5 linked regions of the Homo sapiens genome follow. The protein of the gene in region 1 interacts with the protein of each later gene in a pairwise test. Each region holds a gene or a part of one and is shown on either strand. Other genes may lie near its edges. The genes, in order: TTPA, NBPF19, FAM25G, HSD17B11 and FAM25C.

Region 1 (3,516 bases):
CTGGGCGTGGTGGTGCAGGACTGTAGTCCCAGATACTTGGTGGGCTGAGGCAGGAGGATTGCTTGAGCCCAGGAGGTGGAGGTTGCAGTGAGCCAAGATCGTGCCACTGCACAAAGTGAGGCCCTGTCTAAAAAAAAAAAAAGAATTAAAAGAATTAAAAAGTCAAATTTTAAAAAAGTATTAAAAAACAATTATGATAGTTGAGAACCTTAACTTTTCAAATATTTTAAACTATAAAATTGATCATAGAATGCCCTGAAGTTAAGAGAAAGCCGTAGAAACTTGAACCAAAAGCATACCTGCTAAAATAAATAAATAACCTTTTTTCACTTTCTAGGGCAAAATGTTCCTCTATGTATTCAACAATCATTTAATAAGCATCTATTATGTGCTGGGATATGAGGTTTGATGGATGAAATGAGTTTCCTATACTCACTTAGGAAACTCACAAAGCCAATCTTTAATTTTTTCTGAAATATGTAAAATATTATCAGGTAATTGAGAAGAAATTCTATCTCCTCAGGAAGGGGCAAAATAAGAAAATGTATGGGGCATTGCCAAAAAGTTAAAAAGGAAAAAAGTGGCTGGATCAGAGTTTTTTTCTCCCTATTTTGGCAAGTCTGTTTCCCGTCAACTAACTTTCACTGACATCCTTCCCCTAACTTCTCAACTTTTTACTTTTGCTTTTTTCTCCATATTCTCCTATTTCTTAGGTTCAGTTTATTCTTGTTTTTGTTTTTATCTAAAATATTACTCAAAATAGAAATAGTTATTTTTAGATCTCTAAGAATTAAACAGAGGGAAGCCAGATATTATCAAGTTACACTGAAGAGAGAAAAAAATGAACAAACAAAATTGATTTGTATAAAAATACTAGAATGAAAAGTAGCTGAAAGTGGCCATTTTTGCTAAAGCAGGCAATTTAAGGGTGGTTCTTGAAGACAAACAGAAGCATCCACTGCATAACCTCTAAAGAAGCTCTAGGGTCATAACTTTCTGACCAGGTATAAGATGTTATATTTTCTTAATATGAAAGAACATCGTTTCTAAAATTCCAAATGTGCTATTACAGTTTATATTATCACTGCTGACATTTCAGTGATTTTTTAGATTTAAACTGTTAAAACCTTTACAAATTGTTTTGTGTTCAAGGCATTAGATGATGCCAATGTTTGTCTAAATAGATGCTCTAAAAATTCTTCTTTACAGATTAGTTTAGAATGGTTGCCATTCTTGAGAACGCAGACTCTATTTTCAACCTTTCAAAAAGTCTAAGATATATGAGATGCTTTTTCTGAGATAAGGCTCCATAGGCTAGGTAAAGAAGAAAAAATCCAGTATCTTTGCTCTAACTAGCATGACATTAAGTCATATACCTCAGTTACCGTGGTTCTCAGTTACACTGAAACCGTTAAGTAGGCTTCACTGTTTAAGAAAAATGTTTATTTTTATTTGCATTAATAATAAATTCATATGGTTACAAATCAAAACAAGATAAAAGATACACAGTGAGAGATCTTGCTCCCAAACCTATTCTCATCTACTGTAGTTCACACCTCTTCTCTTGTTCCCTATAGATATCCACTTATATTATTTTTTGTATATCCTTTTAATGTAAATTTATGAAATATATTCTTATTTCTCCCCTTTGTATACAAAAGGTAGCATGCCATAAACACTATTCCACATTTTGTTTATTTCAGTTTACAAAACATCCTGCAATCTCGTTGTTTTCTGTTGTGTAGATGTTTATTTAACCAATGCCCTAATGGTGAACACTTCCTGGTTTTCAGTCTTCTGCTGCTGTGACTCCTCTAGCATATGTAATTTTGTTTAGGTATAGGTAATTCAAGACAGTGATTTTGATGTCTTTGCCACACTGCCCTCTATAGGAATATACCATTAAGCATTCCAACCAGCAGTGTATGAAAAGCCCAGTTACCCCACAGTCTTACAACCAATATACTTGATTTTTATAAATTAAAAGTAAATTTTAATTTACTTTTTTTTAGTTGGCTTGTTAGATAAATATTCAAAATATTGGGCTAATGATATAGATGGGCAGGTACGAGGAAAGATGATAAAGCAATCCTTAAATTAAAAAGGGTTGGAATGTTTGGTGTAGAGGAACACAGACTTGAATATATTTTACTCACCCGTTCCTTAATTTTTTCAGTCAGGAATGGTTTGATCATGGAAAAGACAGCATGGAAAATTACTGGTTCATTTATCAAATGGATGCCACGAACTTTCAATGGAAATGAATCCTTTTGAAAATAAAAAAATCTTAATAACAAAACATAAATATTACAATCTGATACCTAATGTCAAGTTTCTTCTTTGAACACTTGCTAAGCTTATGGAAATATCTAAAGTGTGTGATTTTATCTTCAAAATTATTTATTCCATCAGCACAAAAGCCTGGCTTACAGTTCACTGTCACTAGATTAAGTAAAGATCTCTAAAAAGGTTTCTCCTTATAGATTTGGCAAAGTATTTTACAAAATATCTGCACACTTTCACCAGAAAATTCCTTTCCCATCACATATAGATGTTCTTTTAACGAACCAATGAGTCATTTGGAAATTTATATTTAACTTTTTCCCAAAAAATGTTTATTTTGAGAAAAAAAATCACAAATATTGAAAGACTAGCACAATAAACACACACTTTTAAACTTTGACATTGGTATATGTCTTTAGCATCAAAGTAATATAGGCTTATTTAGAAAGTTTAAGAAGTTAAGAGTTGAAGGAAAAAGATGGTTTTCCTACCTACAAGTTGTATTATTAATACAGAGACCTTTCATTCCAAGGTTCTTTTATGTGAAGTTCTTTTATTTTTTCCATGCATCACTTTCAGAGATGTATTATTAATTTGGGGATTGTCCTTCCAAATCCCTTCTATGCATAATTTTCTTTTAAACATAATTGCTAATATACTTTCTAAATAATTTTCATCCCGTTGTGTTCCACTGATACAATACAGCTTTTGCAAATATCATGTTTTATTATTGTTGCAAGAATCCATCAAATGAATGTACATTTTTTAAGTAACCATGTTTCTATTTTCTGGACTAATAAACTATTTATTTTACTTCTTTACTGAAATTGATGCTGCAGTAACTGTCTTTGTGTATAGGAGAAGTGGTGGTTATAAGCACGACTTTTACATTCAGGTGACCTGGGCTGGAATTCTCACTTCACTACTGGCAAACTGTGTGTGCCTGGGCATCGCTATGTCACTTCTCGGATATAGTTTATTAATTGTAAAGTGGGAAAATACAATAGTCATATGTCATAGGCTCAGTGTGGACATTAAAAGATAATGCATTTGAAACACTTAGCAAAGTACCTGGCACATAGTAAGCTATTATTATTATACGCAATCTTTAATATATTAAAGATTATTCCTTAGCTAGTTTCCCAGAAATAGAATTACTGAGTCAAAGATGATGACCACTTTAAAAACCTTTTGGAAAAAAAAGATATCAATATACACCTACCAAGACTTATG
Region 2 (3,516 bases), on another chromosome or scaffold:
CCACCTGGTCTTCCAGATAGGGGTGATATTCCTGTTCCAAGTGGCCCTTACTGACCCGAGAGATGTCATTGCCGCAGGCAGGACCTATGGGCGCATATAGGTTGTAATGAAACTGTAGTCTCAGTTGGAAGCCTAGACATGAAATGGGTCAGTGAGCAAGGCTCTATTCCTAGTCTCCAGCCATGCCTGTGGCAACCTGAGCCCGCTCTCAGCACATTGGACCCAGGCAGATGTAAAAAATTCACAGAACTATGATTTGGACTCAAGGGTTTGTAGATTTCCTCCTTCATTCTAATTTCAGTGTCTAAAATTCTTACATCCATGAACGAGCTGGGCATTTGATGAGACAGGGCTGAATACTGCAGTTTTCCTCCTAGAAATCATCTGGGGCATTTTCTTTGAACTGATGGGAACAATAAGGCATAACTGTTTGCACAAACTTGGGATAAGTGATTTTGGGATAACGATCTTCCAGAATGGGGATATTTCACCCTTGGTTCTGAGATGCAAACCAAAGAATATCATGACCAGCTTTCAGGCCTCCTGAAGTATATCTCTCACATTGTCCTGTTCTCATGCTGAGGAGCCTGAGATCCCTGTGTGGGGATTAGACAGTGGACTGTTATGGGTGTAGGTGAATTGGCTTATTTTGTCTGTCCCTGTCTGAATGTATTGCAGGAATTAAAAAGGACCAAGAAGAGGAAGAAGACCAAGGCCCACCATGCCCCAGGTAACTGAGCAATTGTGAACAGCTACTTCTGTGTTGACATCTGGAGACTCCTGGTTCAGGGAAAACAGAGCGGGCTGACATTATCGATTACATCTTTTCAAGCAAGCCTGAATTATTCCTACTAACATTGCTGTTGGTTTTCATTGCAGTAGATATTTAGGTTTCCATTTCTTCCTCCCCTTATCATTTACTAACCTACTGTAGGTGGACCAGACTTCAAAAACTGTATTCTCATGGCGACTGCATGGAAACTTGAACACATTTTATGGAAAATTATTGAGCACAGTCTTTTCATGATCACTGTATGCTGTGTGTCCTGAGGGCACTAACTCAGAGTGTCCTGTTACTCCCTCATCAGTGTGTCACCTGGACAATTCACTGAGCTCGTTCTCTCTCTCTCTGTGTGTGTGTCTGTGTGTGTGTGTGTGTCTATCTGTCTTTCTCTTTCATTCTTTTCCATTTGGCCCTGTTCTGTCCCAACATGAAGGCAATAATTTGTTACCTCATTAATGGATCTATCCTTTTACTTTCTTAACCACTTCCTTATGCTACCCATGAAACCTAGTTGGGGCTCTGTTGTGTGTGATTTCCCCTGGCTTATTCTTTACTTTTTCCTCCTTTTCCAGGCTCAGCAGGGAGCTGCTGGAGGTAGTAGAGCCTGAAGTCTTGCAGGACTCACTGGATAGATGTTATTCAACTCCTTCCAGTTGTCTTGAACAGCCTGACTCCTGCCAGCCCTATGGAAGTTCCTTTTATGCATTGGAGGAAAAACATGTTGGCTTTTCTCTTGACGTGGGAGGTGAGTACCTTTCTATGAAGGTGATAAGCATCCACTGAGTCTTCCATATAAAGATCATATTCCTGCTCCAAGTGGCCATTACTGAGCTGAGAGATGTCATTGCCGCAGTGAGGACCTATAGGCACATGTAGGTTGAATGAAACTCTAGTTCTACCTGGAAGCCCAGACATGGGATGGGTCAGTGAGCATGGCTCTCTTCCTAGTCTCAGGCCATACCTGTGGCACTCTGATTCTACTCTCATGACATTGGACCTGGGCAGATGTGACAAATTCAGAGAACTATGATTTTGACTCAAGGGTTTGTAGATTTCCTTTTTCACTCTAATTTCAGTGTCTAAAGTCCTCACAACCATGAACAATCTGAGTATTTGATGAGACAGGGCTAAATATTGCAGTTTTTCTCCCAGAAATCATTTGAGGGTATTTGCTTTAAATTGATTGGAAAAATATGGCATAACTGTTTGCACAAACTTGGGACAAATGATATTGGGATAACGATCTACTAGAATAGGGACATTTTACCCACAGTTTCTGGGAGAAAAACCGAGGAATTTCTATCATGACCAGCCTTCAGGCCTCCTGAAATATATCTCTCACAGTGTCCTATTCTTATGCTGAGGAGCCTGAGGTCCCTGTGTGAGGATTAGACAGTGGATTGTTATGTGTGTAGGGGAATCAGCTTAATGTGTCTGTCCATGTCTGAATTTATTGCAGAAATTGAAAAGAAGGGGAAGGGGAAGAAAAGAAGGGGAAGAAGATCAAAGAAGGAAAGAAGAAGGGGAAGAAAAGAAGGGGAAGAAGATCAAAACCCACCATGCCCCAGGTGACTTTCAGCAATTGTGGATGCTTAATTCTGTGTTAACACCTGGAGGCAACAGATTCAGGGAAACCAGAGTGTGTTTGATGTCATGTTTTCAACGAAGGCTGAATTACTCCTACTGTCATTGCTGTTGGTTTTCATTGCAGTAGATGTTTAGGTTTCCATTTCTTCCTCCCCTTATCATTTACTAGCGTACCATAGGTTGACCATACTTCAAAAGCTGTACTCTCATGGCCACTGCATCGAATTTTGAGCATATTTTATGGAAAACTATTGAGCTCACTCTTTTCATGATCACAGTTTGCTGTGTGTCATGAGGGCACTAACTCAGAGTGTCCTTTTACTCCCTTACCAGTATGTCACCTGGCCAATTCACTAGGTCACTTTCTCTCTGTCTCTGTCTCTGTCTCTCTCTCTCTGTCTTTCTCTTTCATTGTTTTCTACCTGGCCCTGTTCTATCCCAACATAAAGGCAATAAATTTTTTTTTTTACCTCATTAATGGATCTATCCTTTTTCTTTTCTAACCACTTCCTTATGTGACTTCTGAAATCTAGTGGGGCTCTGTGGTGTCTGATTTTCCCTGGCTGCTTCTTTAGTTTTGTCTCCTTTTCCAGGCTCAACAGCGTGCTGATGGAAGTGGAAGAGCCTGAAGTCTTACAGGACTCACTGGATGGATGTTATTCGACTCCGTCAATGTACTTTGAACTACCTGACTCATTCCAGCACTACAGAAGTGTGTTTTACTCATTTGAGGAAGAGCATATCAGCTTCGCCCTTTACTTGGACAATAGGTTTTTTACTTTGACGGTGACAAGTCTCCATCTGGTGTTCCAGATGTTAGTCATATTCCCACAATAGGCAGCCCTTACTAAGCCGAGAGATGTCATTCCTGCAGGCAGGACCTATAGGCACGTGAAGATTTGAATGAAACTACAGTTCCATTTGGAAGCCCAGACATAGGATGGGTCAGTGGGCATGGCTCTTTTCCTATTCTCAAACCATGCCAGTGGCAACCTGTGCTCAGTCTGAAGACAATGGACCCACGTTAGGTGTGACACGTTCACATAACTGTGCAGCACATGCCGGGAGTGATCAGTCGGACATTTTAATTTGAACCACGTATCTTTGGGTAGCTACAAAATTCCTCAGGGATTTCATTTTGCAGG
Region 3 (4,054 bases), on another chromosome or scaffold:
TTTGTATTTTTAGTAGAGATGCGGTTTCACCGTGGTCTGGATCTCCTGACCTCATGATCCGCCCACCTCAGCCTCCCAAAGTGCTGGGATTACAGGCGTGAGCCACCGCCCCCAGCAATTATTTTTTTCTTTTTTTTTGAGACCGAGTCTTGCTCTGTAGCCCAGGCTGGAGTGCAGTGGCATGATCTAGGCTCACTGCAAGCTCTGCCTCCCAGGTACACACCATTCTCCTGCCTCAGCCTCCCAAGTAGCTGGGACTATAGGCACCCACCACCATGCCCGGCTAATTTTTATGTATTTTTAGTAGAGACGGGGTTTCACCGTGTTAGCCAGGATGGTCTCGATCTCCTGACCTCATGATCCGCCCTCCTCAGCCTCCCAAAGTGCTGGGATTACAGGCATGAGCCACCGCACCCTGCCATGTTAAATGTTTTGTCCCAGTGTGCTGTCACATAGTCTTGTGTGACTTTGTCTTCTTATTCCACAGAGAGAACCATCTAGACAGTGTCCTAACGCAGTACAGTCTGTGGCCTCTGATGAGCATAGATAACTGCCCCAGCCAAGAGGCTCTGAAAGGCTGCAACATTAGGGGCAGAGTTTGACCTGGTTAGTCAAAGAACAGGTTGGCCCAGCACCTAGCTTCCCTTCCTCCCTCCCTCCTTCCCTGCCCGACCTCAGCCGGCTGTACCTTTCTCTCCAGTCTCCTTGGCATGTCCCACCACCTCCTTCACCACTTCCTCCACGGCATGAACTGAACAGAGGAGACAAGTCCAGGGTGAGGGCTCAGAGCAGGCCGGCTGCCCCCGAGTCCAGGGTGAGGGTTCAGAGCAGAGCCGCTGCCCTCCCAGTCCAGGGTGAGGGCTCAGAGCAGGCCCACTGCCCTCCCAGTCCAGGGTGAGGGCTCAGGGCTGGCTTATCCTCACAACAGACCTATACATCCCTGGGCATCCTAGATGGGGCTCTGGGGTGCCACCCCCAGCCAGGACAGACTGACTCATGAGAAGGACCTTCCCCCACAGCTGGCTTCATTTGGAGACGCCAGGGCCTTGGCTGCTGGGAGACGAGCTCAATGAGCCCCATGAGGGCATGGGTCCCTGAAGCCCCTTGGCCCTGCCCGGCCTGGAATGGCAATGAGCAGGCAGTCTTGCCAGCTGAGACATGAAGCCCAGGCTGGGCCTGTGTGCCAGGTCACACCCCTCTCAGGATGTGCTAGCGCCTGCCTCAGGTTGGTTTCCAAAGCCTCATCCACTAAGACCAGGTCTCTCAAAGCAATTCCTCCAACAAAACGGAATTCTCTGCCTACTTCAGAGTTTTTTAAAGTGTGGGTGGTAGCGTGCTAGAACTGAAGGATTTCAGAGTCAGAAGAAATGGTTCTTATTCTAACTCTACCTTCCACCTCTTGGTTCCCTCATCTTTAGAATGGGAATCTGTTGGGATGATGAGACCCAACACCAGGTCACGGGGGCGGCAAGTCCAGCGGAGTCAAAGGAATGACAAAGAGACAGTTCGAGAGAGAAAATGGGAGCAGGGCGCTATCGCGAGTGTGGAGGCTGCGAAGGCCCCGAGTTCTGGGAGCCCACGCTATTTATTGGTGATCTAACAAAGAAACAGGTGGTGAGGATGTGGAGGTTGAAAGGAAACAGTGTATCAAGTGAATGAGAAACATATGGCTACTTGAGAGAATGGCAGTGCTAGAAGCAAGGAGCCAGCAAGTCTAGCAAGCCCTGCCTCAGCTTTTCTCCCAACGCTGAGCTTTTCTCCCAACAGGAATCATAAAAAACTCAGAGGCTAGTGAAAGGTTAAAGCAGGTGGTCCACACCAGCTGCAGAGTCAAAAACAAAATACGCATCTGCTGCCATTTAGAAAGAGGACACAAACTCAGGCAAGACTTTTTCACACGATGACCCATGAGTGGGGCCTGGCTGGGCCTCCCCACACATACCTGCTGACCTCTGAATACAACATACACTTCGGGACCAGGTGCAGTGGTTCACGCCTGTAATCCCAGCACTTTGGGAGGCCAAGAGGAATGGATCACTTGAGGTCAGGAGTTTGAGACCAGCCTGGCCAAAATGGCGAAACCCCGTCTCTGCTAAAAATACAAAAATTAGTCGGGCGTGGTGGTGGGTGCCTGTAATCCCAGCTACTCAGGAGGCTGAGGCATGAGAATCACTTTGAACCCAGGAGGCAAAGGTTACAGTGAGCCGAGATCGCACCACTACACTCCAGCCTGGGTGCCAGAGCAAGACTCCATTTCAAATACAAATACAAATAAAAATAAACATGCTTTAGGGGACTTGGATGAAATTGAAAATGCCCTTTTTGACTTTGAACAGACTTGGTGACTTGTTAAGAAATCTTTGAAGCTTTAAAGTTATGGTAAAAATAAAAATCCATCTTCCTTTTCCTGCATAGGTTATTCAGAATAGGCTGTTTTGACAAGAAAGGCTCCCCAGATTTCCAGAGGGAAGGGTCCAAGCTGCCAGTGTTCACCCAGCACCAGGACTCATGCCCTGCCCCCAGGAGACCTCCCCAGGTCTGCACCCCTCAACTCCGTGCTGACTTGGTAGAGCAGGAGACCAGGGTTCCTGAGGGGCCAAGGCCTCCCCGCAGGTCCTCGCCTGCCTACGTAGATCCGCCTCCCACAGACCCAGTCTGCCCCAGATCCCCCCAGCCCAGGTAGAAAGGAGCCCTGGGTCCTCACTGGCTCCCTCGGTGGCCTTCTCGGTGCGGTGGGCCAGGCCCTCGGCAGCCAGCTTCCCCAGGCCTCCCAGCATCGTGTGGCAGCAGACAGTGGCGAACTAGGATGCTGAGGACTGGCCCAACATGCTTTTATAGCTGCCTCTGGTGCCTATCTAGGCTCTGGGGCAATAAGCCCTCACCCCAGCCCAGTAGGAGGCTGGACAGGTGAGTCAGTGAGGGCGGCAGCAGGAAGGGGCTGGGCGGAGCCACCCTGGAACTAGGGTGGCAGCATCCCCTGACAGCATGAGGCTTCTGTAACCCTGTCCTAGGGACCCCGTGAAGGATAGGGGCAGGGAGCAGGGCTGGACAGTAGAGATCTGGACATGCTTCTTCCTTGAGGCAGAGGGCCTGAGTGCCAGCCCCCCTGAGACCAAAGCTTCCCAAGCCTGGGTACTGATATGTACCTGGAGACAAGGCCTAGGATTCCAAGCCTGCTGCTCAAGGTCCCCAGTGTGGCCTAGTAAGAGGTTTGGGGGTTCTATGGGCCTGGAGACCTGGGCAGTCCTTTGAGTCATGAACACAAGTGGAATGAGGGTGACTGCCCTCCCCATTCCTGGAGACCCTGGCTCTGCAGAGCAGTTTGCGGCCTCCATGGGACAGGGTGGGGCGTTCAGGGTGGTGCCTTGCCCGAGTCAGAGGGGGGCACAGCACTGGGCAGAAGCGTAGTCACCTGGTGTCGCTCAGCTGATGCTCACTCACCCAAGAGGCTCTGTGAGGTCAGCAGTGCCCTCCTATCCCCTGGCAGTCCTGGAGGAGTAGACAGAGGCCTCCACCACCACTCAGGGAGATGCTTCTGGCCTTAGCTAGAATCCCCTAGGAAGCAGCTTCCCTGGCTCCTGGTGCATCGCATGAGGAGTGGCAGGGCTGCTCCCTAGTTACTCATGATGGACAGACATGCCTCAAGCCACCTGCCACATGCTGCTTCCCTTAGTCACCAGCCCAACCTGAGCCTCCGTTTCCTCATCTGTAAAATGGGCATAGCGTGCCTTCTTGGCTGTGTCCCTAATCATCCCTGAGGCAAAGCATGCAAGCTCCTGGTAAACACCTGTTCCCTCCACTCATCATTGAGGTGCCCTTTGGCAGTGAGCTCTGACCAACTGGTAGGGTGTGCCAAGGAGTGACTGGGACGTGAGGCTGCCTTGGAGCCAGAGGGCTGGGGAATGTGACTTCTGCTGGCCAGGAGCCAAGGAGAGGTCTTCCCATGCTCCTACTTCTGGGGTGCAGGCCTGTGGCAGGGGTCTGAGGCTCTCTCCCCAATGCAGGCTCCTGGAGCTGCTCTCCTGGATGTGTCGGGGCCTGATTAGTTTACTGG
Region 4 (3,516 bases), on another chromosome or scaffold:
CCAAGCATCTTAGTTGCTTATGGAACCATAAAAATCTCATATAAGGTATTTTTGCATTGCTACCCCTTGGAATTATGGTACTCCAATCTTATAAAAAGTAGGGCTTAAGCATCAAGATTCTATGATCTTTCTTAGTTGAAGAGATAGTTATTGATTATATTCTAGTCCAGAAGATATAACAATTATTTTGAAAAAAAGTTACATTACCTGTAATGGTCCCCTTTTGAGTATAGTCTTTTTTTTTTTTGAGACAGAGTCTCGCTCTGTCGCTCAGGCTAGAGCACAGTGGCGCAATCTCAGCTCACTGCAACCTCCGCCTCCCGGGTTCAGGCGATTCTCCTGCCTCAGCCTCCTGAGCAGCTGGGATTACAGGTGCACGTCACCACGCCTAGCTAATTTTTGTACTTTTAGTAGAGACTGGGTTTCACCATGTTGGTCAGGCTGGTCTTGAACTCCTGACCTCATGATCCACCTGCCTCAGCCTCCCAAAGTGCTGGGATTACAGGTGTGAGCCACTGTGCCCGGCCTACAAATAGTCTTTTTTTAAAAATATTTTTCTTTCTTTTTGAGACAGAGTCTTGCTCTGTCACCCAGGCGGGCGTGCAATGGTGCAATCTCAGCTCACTGCAACCTCCACCTCCCAGGTGCAAGCAATCCTCCCAGTTCAACCTTCCGAGTAGCTGGGACTACAGGAACCCACCACCACACTCACCTAATTTTTGTGTTTTCAATAGAGATGCAGTTTCACCATGTCAATCAGGCTGGTCTTGAACTCCTGGCCTCAAGTGATCCACCCACCTTGGCCTCCCAAAGTGCTGGGAATATAGATGTGAGCCACCGTGCCCAGCCTACAAATAGTCTTTACAGTCCAGTGGATGCCTTCTATTGCTCTTAGCAGCTAGCCTTGTTCTTTTGTTTATATTTCCTCAACTGAAATCATTTCACCAATGATAGCTGCAACAACCTTTGAAATCTGGCCATAAGGGTTTACATAAGCCCTTCCACATAACCATTTTATTTCTCAAATGTTCTTCCTTCTGGATCAATACCAAAATAGAATTTTCAAGAGAAAACACACATACCATGCATATATATTAGAAAAACACACATATGTATTTTAATATTATTTACCTCATATTTCTATATTTTGGGGGTTTTTTGTTTGTTTTTTGGGTTTTTTTTTTTTTTTTTTTGAGATGAAATCTCGTCTGTCACCCAGGCTGCAGCACAGTGGCACGATCTCAGCTCACTGCAACCTCCGCCTCCTGGGTTCAAGCGATTCTCCTGCCTCAGCCTCTCGAGTAGCTGGGATTACAGGCGTACACCACCATGCCCCACTAATTTTTGTATTTTTAGTAGAGATGGGGTTTCACCATGTGGGTCAGGCTGGTCTCCGATTCCTGACCTCAAGTGATCTGCCTGCCTTGGCCTCCCAAATGCTGGGATTAGAGGCGTGAGCCACCTCATTTGGCCAATATTTGTATATTAAGTACCCTCATAGACACCTGAGCAGGTCAAGAAGAGAATCTTAAAACATGTTACTTGTAGACAAGTATAAATGGTTTTGAAATAATTATAATGATAGTAATAGCAGTTTACTGTGTGTACTAGATACAGTGTTAGCTCCTTTACATGCATTATTTCATTTGTTTCCACAACGACTCACAAGGAACTTGTATTAGTATCTCTATTTTGCAGAGGAAGAATTGAAGTTTTAAGAGGTTAAGTAACTTGGTCAAGGTCCAACAGTGACTGGCAGAGCCCAAACTCAAGGTCCAAGGAAACCACTCTTCACCCTTAAGCCTACTGCCACCTAATGGAGAGCGATTGAACAACAGAACAGAAAATAAACAGAAATAAATAGAAAATGTGGCCAGCTTAATAGTGTAATCAGTTTTCCACAATTCTCTGTAGTAGTCCCTGATTTTGCCACATTAGTTTTACTTTTATTTTTTGAGACGGAGTTTTGCTTTTGTTGCCCAGGCCGGAGTGCGATGGCGCGATCTCAGCTCACCGCAACTTCCGCCTCTCGGGTTCAAGCGATTCTCCTGCCTCAGCCTCCTGAGTAGCTGGGATTATAGGCGCCCGCCACCATGTACAGCTAATTTTGTATTTTTAGTAGAGACAGGGTTTCTCCATGTTGGTCATGCTGGTCTCAAACTCCGGACCACAGGTGATCCACCTGCCTCGGCCTCCCAAAATACTGGGATTACAGGCGTGAGCCACCGCACCCAGCCTAATTTAACTTTTTTTGCTTACCCTTTGAAGTAATGTTTTAAAAAAAATGCTACTTAGCCAAATGCCTCTTGATCTATAGTCAATAGAACTAAGTCAAGAGACTAAATTGCAAAAGAAAATTTCCACCTGATACACTTGAAGATAGATCTATTTTGGACATAAGTGCATAAAATAAAAAGGATTTTTTTCCCCTGTTGACACATGGATTGCAAAATCACTTTTATCCAGATCTAGCAGAAAAACAAGAGTCATTGCGTACAAGACGGGAACAGTGACTCATGCCTGTAATCCCAGCACTTTGGGAGGCTGAGGTGGGCAGATCACTTGAGATCAGGAGTTCAAGACTAGCCTAGCTAACATGGTGAAATCCAATCTCTACTAAAAATATAAAAATTAGCCAGGTGTGGCGTGGTTGCATGAGCCTTCAGTCCCTGCTACTTGGGAAGCTGAGGCCAGAGAATCTCTTGAACCCGGGAGGTGGAGGTTGCAGTGAGCCAAGATTTCGCCACTGTACTGCAGCCTGGGCAACAGAGCAAGAATCCGTCTCAAAAAAAAAAAATAGCCATTGTGTATAAACTTACCCTCATACCTCTTAATGAATTTACTTTTCTTATTTTATTTTTTGAAGGTGAAGGCAGAAATTGGAGATGTTAGTATTTTAGTAAATAATGCTGGTGTAGTCTATACATCAGATTTGTTTGCTACACAAGATCCTCAGATTGAAAAGACTTTTGAAGTTAATGTACTTGCACATTTCTGGGTGAGTATGGCTTCTTTTACAAAAATGTTCCTTTTGAAAATCCCAAAGATTAAAGTGGGGCTTTTAGCAGACATAAGGAAGTATTAAATCAATGCTAAAGTTTTCTCCAGGCACCAGGGATAACATTATACAAAGAGATCATTTTTCATGCTATGACCAAATTCTATCATTCTTCCTCACTGACAACATTAATAATAACAATAATAAATTAATAATAAATGTCAGGTGTTGTATATGTTTTAATTCTAAGCTAGGTTCTCACATTTCTGTGTGATCCTATTTAGAGATAAAGAAAGGAGTTGGGGACCATCCGAGTCATCGTCTGTGATTTTATAAAGGTGAATCCAGTTTGCTTTCAGATTCTCTTTTTTCTTTTTTAGACAGGGTCTCACTCTGTTGCCAAGGCTGGAGTGCAGTGATGCAATCTCATCTCACTGCAGCCCCAACTTCCCAGGCTCAAGTGATCCTCCCACCTCAGCCCCCTCAAGTAGCTGGGACTACAGGCATTAACATGCCCA
Region 5 (4,069 bases), on another chromosome or scaffold:
GGGCCCACAGTCCAGTAAACTAATCAGGCCCCGACACATCCAGGAGAGCAGCTCCAGGAGCCTGCATTGGGGAGAGAGCCTCAGACCCCTGCCACAGGCCTGCACCCCAGAAGTAGGAGCATGGGAAGACCTCTCCTTGGCTCCTGGCCAGCAGAAGTCACATTCCCCAGCCCTCTGGCTCCAAGGCAGCCTCACGTCCCAGTCACTCCTTGGCACACCCTACCAGTTGGTCAGAGCTCACTGCCAAAGGGCACCTCAATGATGAGTGGAGGGAACAGGTGTTTACCAGGAGCTTGCATGCTTTGTCTCAGGGATGATTAGGGACACAGCCAAGAAGACACGCTATGCCCATTTTACAGATGAGGAAACGGAGGCTCAGGTTGGGCTGGTGACTAAGGGAAGCAGCATGTGGCAGGTGGCTTGAGGCATGTCTGTCCATCATGAGTAACTAGGGAGCAGCCCTGCCACTCCTCATGCGATGCACCAGGAGCCAGGGAAGCTGCTTCCTAGGGGATTCTAGCTAAGGCCAGAAGCATCTCCCTGAGTGGTGGTGGAGGCCTCTGTCTACTCCTCCAGGACTGCCAGGGGATAGGAGGGCACTGCTGACCTCACAGAGCCTCTTGGGTGAGTGAGCATCAGCTGAGTGACACCAGGTGACTACGCTTCTGCCCAGTGCTGTGCCCCCCTCTGACTCGGGCAAGGCACCACCCTGAACGCCCCACCCTGTCCCATGGAGGCCGCAAACTGCTCTGCAGAGCCAGGGTCTCCAGGAATGGGGAGGGCAGTCACCCTCATTCCACTTGTGTTCATGACCCAAAGGACTGCCCAGGTCTCCAGGCCCATAGAACCCCCAAACCTCTTACTAGGCCACACTGGGGACCTTGAGCAGCAGGCTTGGAATCCTAGGCCTTGTCTCCAGGTACATATCAGTACCCAGGCTTGGGAAGCTTTGGTCTCAGGGGGGCTGGCACTCAGGCCCTCTGCCTCAAGGAAGAAGCATGTCCAGATCTCTACTGTCCAGCCCTGCTCCCTGCCCCTATCCTTCACGGGGTCCCTAGGACAGGGTTACAGAAGCCTCATGCTGTCAGGGGATGCTGCCACCCTAGTTCCAGGGTGGCTCCGCCCAGCCCCTTCCTGCTGCCGCCCTCACTGACTCACCTGTCCAGCCTCCTACTGGGCTGGGGTGAGGGCTTATTGCCCCAGAGCCTAGACAGACACCAGAGGCAGCTATAAAAGCATGTTGGGCCAGTCCTCAGCATCCTAGTTCGCCACTGTCTGCTGCCACACGATGCTGGGAGGCCTGGGGAAGCTGGCTGCCGAGGGCCTGGCCCACCGCACCGAGAAGGCCACCGAGGGAGCCAGTGAGGACCCGGGGCTCCTTTCTACCTGGGCTGGGGGGATCTGGGGCAGACTGGGTCTGTGGGAGGCGGATCTACGTAGGCAGGCGAGGACCTGCGGGGAGGCCTTGGCCCCTCAGGAACCCTGGTCTCCTGCTCTACCAAGTCAGCACGGAGTTGAGGGGTGCAGACCTGGGGAGGTCTCCTGGGGGCAGGGCATGAGTCCTGGTGCTGGGTGAACACTGGCAGCTTGGACCCTTCCCTCTGGAAATCTGGGGAGCCTTTCTTGTCAAAACAGCCTATTCTGAATAACCTATGCAGGAAAAGGAAGATGGATTTTTATTTTTACCATAACTTTAAAGCTTCAAAGATTTCTTAACAAGTCACCAAGTCTGTTCAAAGTCAAAAAGGGCATTTTCAATTTCATCCAAGTCCCCTAAAGCATGTTTATTTTTATTTGTATTTGTATTTGAAATGGAGTCTTGCTCTGGCACCCAGGCTGGAGTGTAGTGGTGCGATCTCGGCTCACTGTAACCTTTGCCTCCTGGGTTCAAAGTGATTCTCATGCCTCAGCCTCCTGAGTAGCTGGGATTACAGGCACCCACCACCACGCCCGACTAATTTTTGTATTTTTAGCAGAGACGGGGTTTCGCCATTTTGGCCAGGCTGGTCTCAAACTCCTGCCCTCAAGTGATCCATTCCTCTTGGCCTCCCAAAGTGCTGGGATTACAGGCGTGAACCACTGCACCTGGTCCCGAAGTGTATGTTGTATTCAGAGGTCAGCAGGTATGTGTGGGGAGGCCCAGCCAGGCCCCACTCATGGGTCATCGTGTGAAAAAGTCTTGCCTGAGTTTGTGTCCTCTTTCTAAATGGCAGCAGATGCGTATTTTGTTTTTGACTCTGCAGCTGGTGTGGACCACCTGCTTTAACCTTTCACTAGCCTCTGAGTTTTCTATGATTCCTGTTGGGAGAAAAGCTGAGTGTTGGGAGAAAAGCTGAGGCAGGGCTTGCTAGACTTGCTGGCTCCTTGCTTCTAGCACTGCCATTCTCTCAAGTAGCCATATGTTTCTCATTCACTTGATACACTGTTGCCTTTCAACCTCCACATCCTCACCACCTGTTTCTTTGTTAGATCACCAATAAATAGCGTGGGCTCCCAGAACTCGGGGCCTTCGCAGCCTCCACACTCGCGATAGCGCCCTGCTCCCATTTTCTCTCTCGAACTGTCTCTTTCTCATTCCTTTGACTCCGCTGGACTTGCCGCCCCCGTGACCTGGTGTTGGGTCTCATCATCCCAACAGATTCCCATTCTAAAGATGAGGGAACCAAGAGGTGGAAGGTAGAGTTAGAATAAGAACCATTTCTTCTGACTCTGAAATCCTTCAGTTCTAGCACACTACCACCCACACTTTAAAAAACTCTGAAGTAGGCAGAGAATTCCGTTTTGTTGGAGGAATTGCTTTGAGAGACCTGGTCTTAGTGGATGAGGCTTTGGAAACCAACCTGAGGCAGGCGCTAGCACATCCTGAGAGGGGTGTGACCTGGCACACAGGCCCAGCCTGGGTTTCATGTCTCAGCTGGCAAGACTGCCTGCTCATTGCCATTCCAGGCCGGGCAGGGCCAAGGGGCTTCAGGGACCCATGCCCTCATGGGGCTCACTGAGCTCGTCTCCCGGTAGCCAAGGCCCTGGCGTCTCCAAATGAAGCCAGCTGTGGGGGAAGGTCCTTCTCATGAGCCAGTCTGTCCTGGCTGGGGGTGGCATCCCAGAGCCCCATCTAGGATGCCCAGGGATGTATAGGTCTGTTGTGAGGATAAGCCAGCCCTGAGCCCTCACCCTGGACTGGGAGGGCAGTGGGCCTGCTCTGAGCCCTCACCCTGGACTGGGAGGGCAGCGGCTCTGCTCTGAACCCTCACCCTGGACTCAGGGGCAGCCGGCCTGCTCTGAGCCCTCACCCTGGACTTGTCTCCTCTGTTCAGTTCATGCCGTGGAGGAAGTGGTGAAGGAGGTGGTGGGACATGCCAAGGAGACTGGAGAGAAAGGTACAGCCGGCTGAGGTCGGGCAGGGAAGGAGGGAGGGAGGAAGGGAAGCTAGGTGCTGGGCCAACCTGTTCTTTGACTAACCAGGTCAAACTCTGCCCCTAATGTTGCAGCCTTTCAGAGCCTCTTGGCTGGGGCAGTTATCTATGCTCATCAGAGGCCACAGACCGTACTGCGTTAGGACACTGTCTAGATGGTTCTCTCTGTGGAATAAGAAGACAAAGTCACACAAGACTATGTGACAGCACACTGGGACAAAACATTTAACATGGCAGGGCACGGTGGCTCATGCCTGTAATCCCAGCACTTTGGGAGGCTGAGGAGGGCGGATCACGAGGTCAGGAGATCGAGACCATCCTGGCTAACACGGTGAAACCCCGTCTCTACTAAAAATACATAAAAATTAGCCGGGCATGGTGGTGGGTGCCTATAGTCCCAGCTACTTGGGAGGCTGAGGCAGGAGAATGGTGTGTACCTGGGAGGCAGAGCTTGCAGTGAGCCTAGATCATGCCACTGCACTCCAGCCTGGGCTACAGAGCGAAACTCGGTCTCAAAAAAATTGCTGGGGGCGGTGGCTCACGCCTGTAATCCCAGCACTTTGGGAGGCTGAGGTGGGCGGATCATGAGGTCAGGAGATCCAGACCACGGTGAAACCCCATCTCTACTAAAAATACAAAAAATTAGCTGGGCACGG

What was found.
Region 2: the proteins of TTPA (region 1) and NBPF19 interact in a two-hybrid assay, tested with the Homo sapiens proteins (one large-scale study listed by BioGRID).
Region 3: the proteins of TTPA (region 1) and FAM25G interact in a two-hybrid assay, tested with the Homo sapiens proteins (one large-scale study listed by BioGRID).
Region 4: the proteins of TTPA (region 1) and HSD17B11 interact in binary tests that used the Homo sapiens proteins (3 or more experiments, as listed by UniProt).
Region 5: the proteins of TTPA (region 1) and FAM25C interact in a two-hybrid assay, tested with the Homo sapiens proteins (one large-scale study listed by BioGRID).

The regions. Positions count from the first base shown.
Region 1 is NC_000008.11:63,062,050-63,065,565, forward strand, and holds part of TTPA (alpha-tocopherol transfer protein), read right to left. Parts: intron 2,268-3,516; coding exon 2,157-2,267; intron 128-2,156; coding exon of another isoform or gene 1-127.
Region 2 is NC_000001.11:149,551,531-149,555,046, forward strand, and holds part of NBPF19 (NBPF family member NBPF19), read left to right. Parts: intron 1-678; coding exon 679-730; intron 731-1,356; coding exon 1,357-1,529; intron 1,530-2,243; coding exon 2,244-2,352; intron 2,353-2,964; coding exon 2,965-3,208; 3' UTR 3,209-3,516.
Region 3 is NC_000010.11:47,488,898-47,492,951, forward strand, and holds the start of FAM25G (protein FAM25G), read right to left. Parts: upstream 2,804-4,054; 5' UTR 2,778-2,803; coding exon 2,705-2,777; intron 752-2,704; coding exon 689-751; intron 1-688.
Region 4 is NC_000004.12:87,374,181-87,377,696, reverse strand, and holds part of HSD17B11 (estradiol 17-beta-dehydrogenase 11 precursor), read left to right. Parts: intron 1-2,866; coding exon 2,867-2,998; intron 2,999-3,282; coding exon of another isoform or gene 3,283-3,288; exon of another isoform or gene 3,289-3,303; intron 3,304-3,516. UniProt on the Homo sapiens protein: Can convert androstan-3-alpha,17-beta-diol (3-alpha-diol) to androsterone in vitro, suggesting that it may participate in androgen metabolism during steroidogenesis.
Region 5 is NC_000010.11:47,996,985-48,001,053, reverse strand, and holds the start of FAM25C (protein FAM25C), read left to right. Parts: upstream 1-1,262; 5' UTR 1,263-1,288; coding exon 1,289-1,361; intron 1,362-3,314; coding exon 3,315-3,377; intron 3,378-4,069.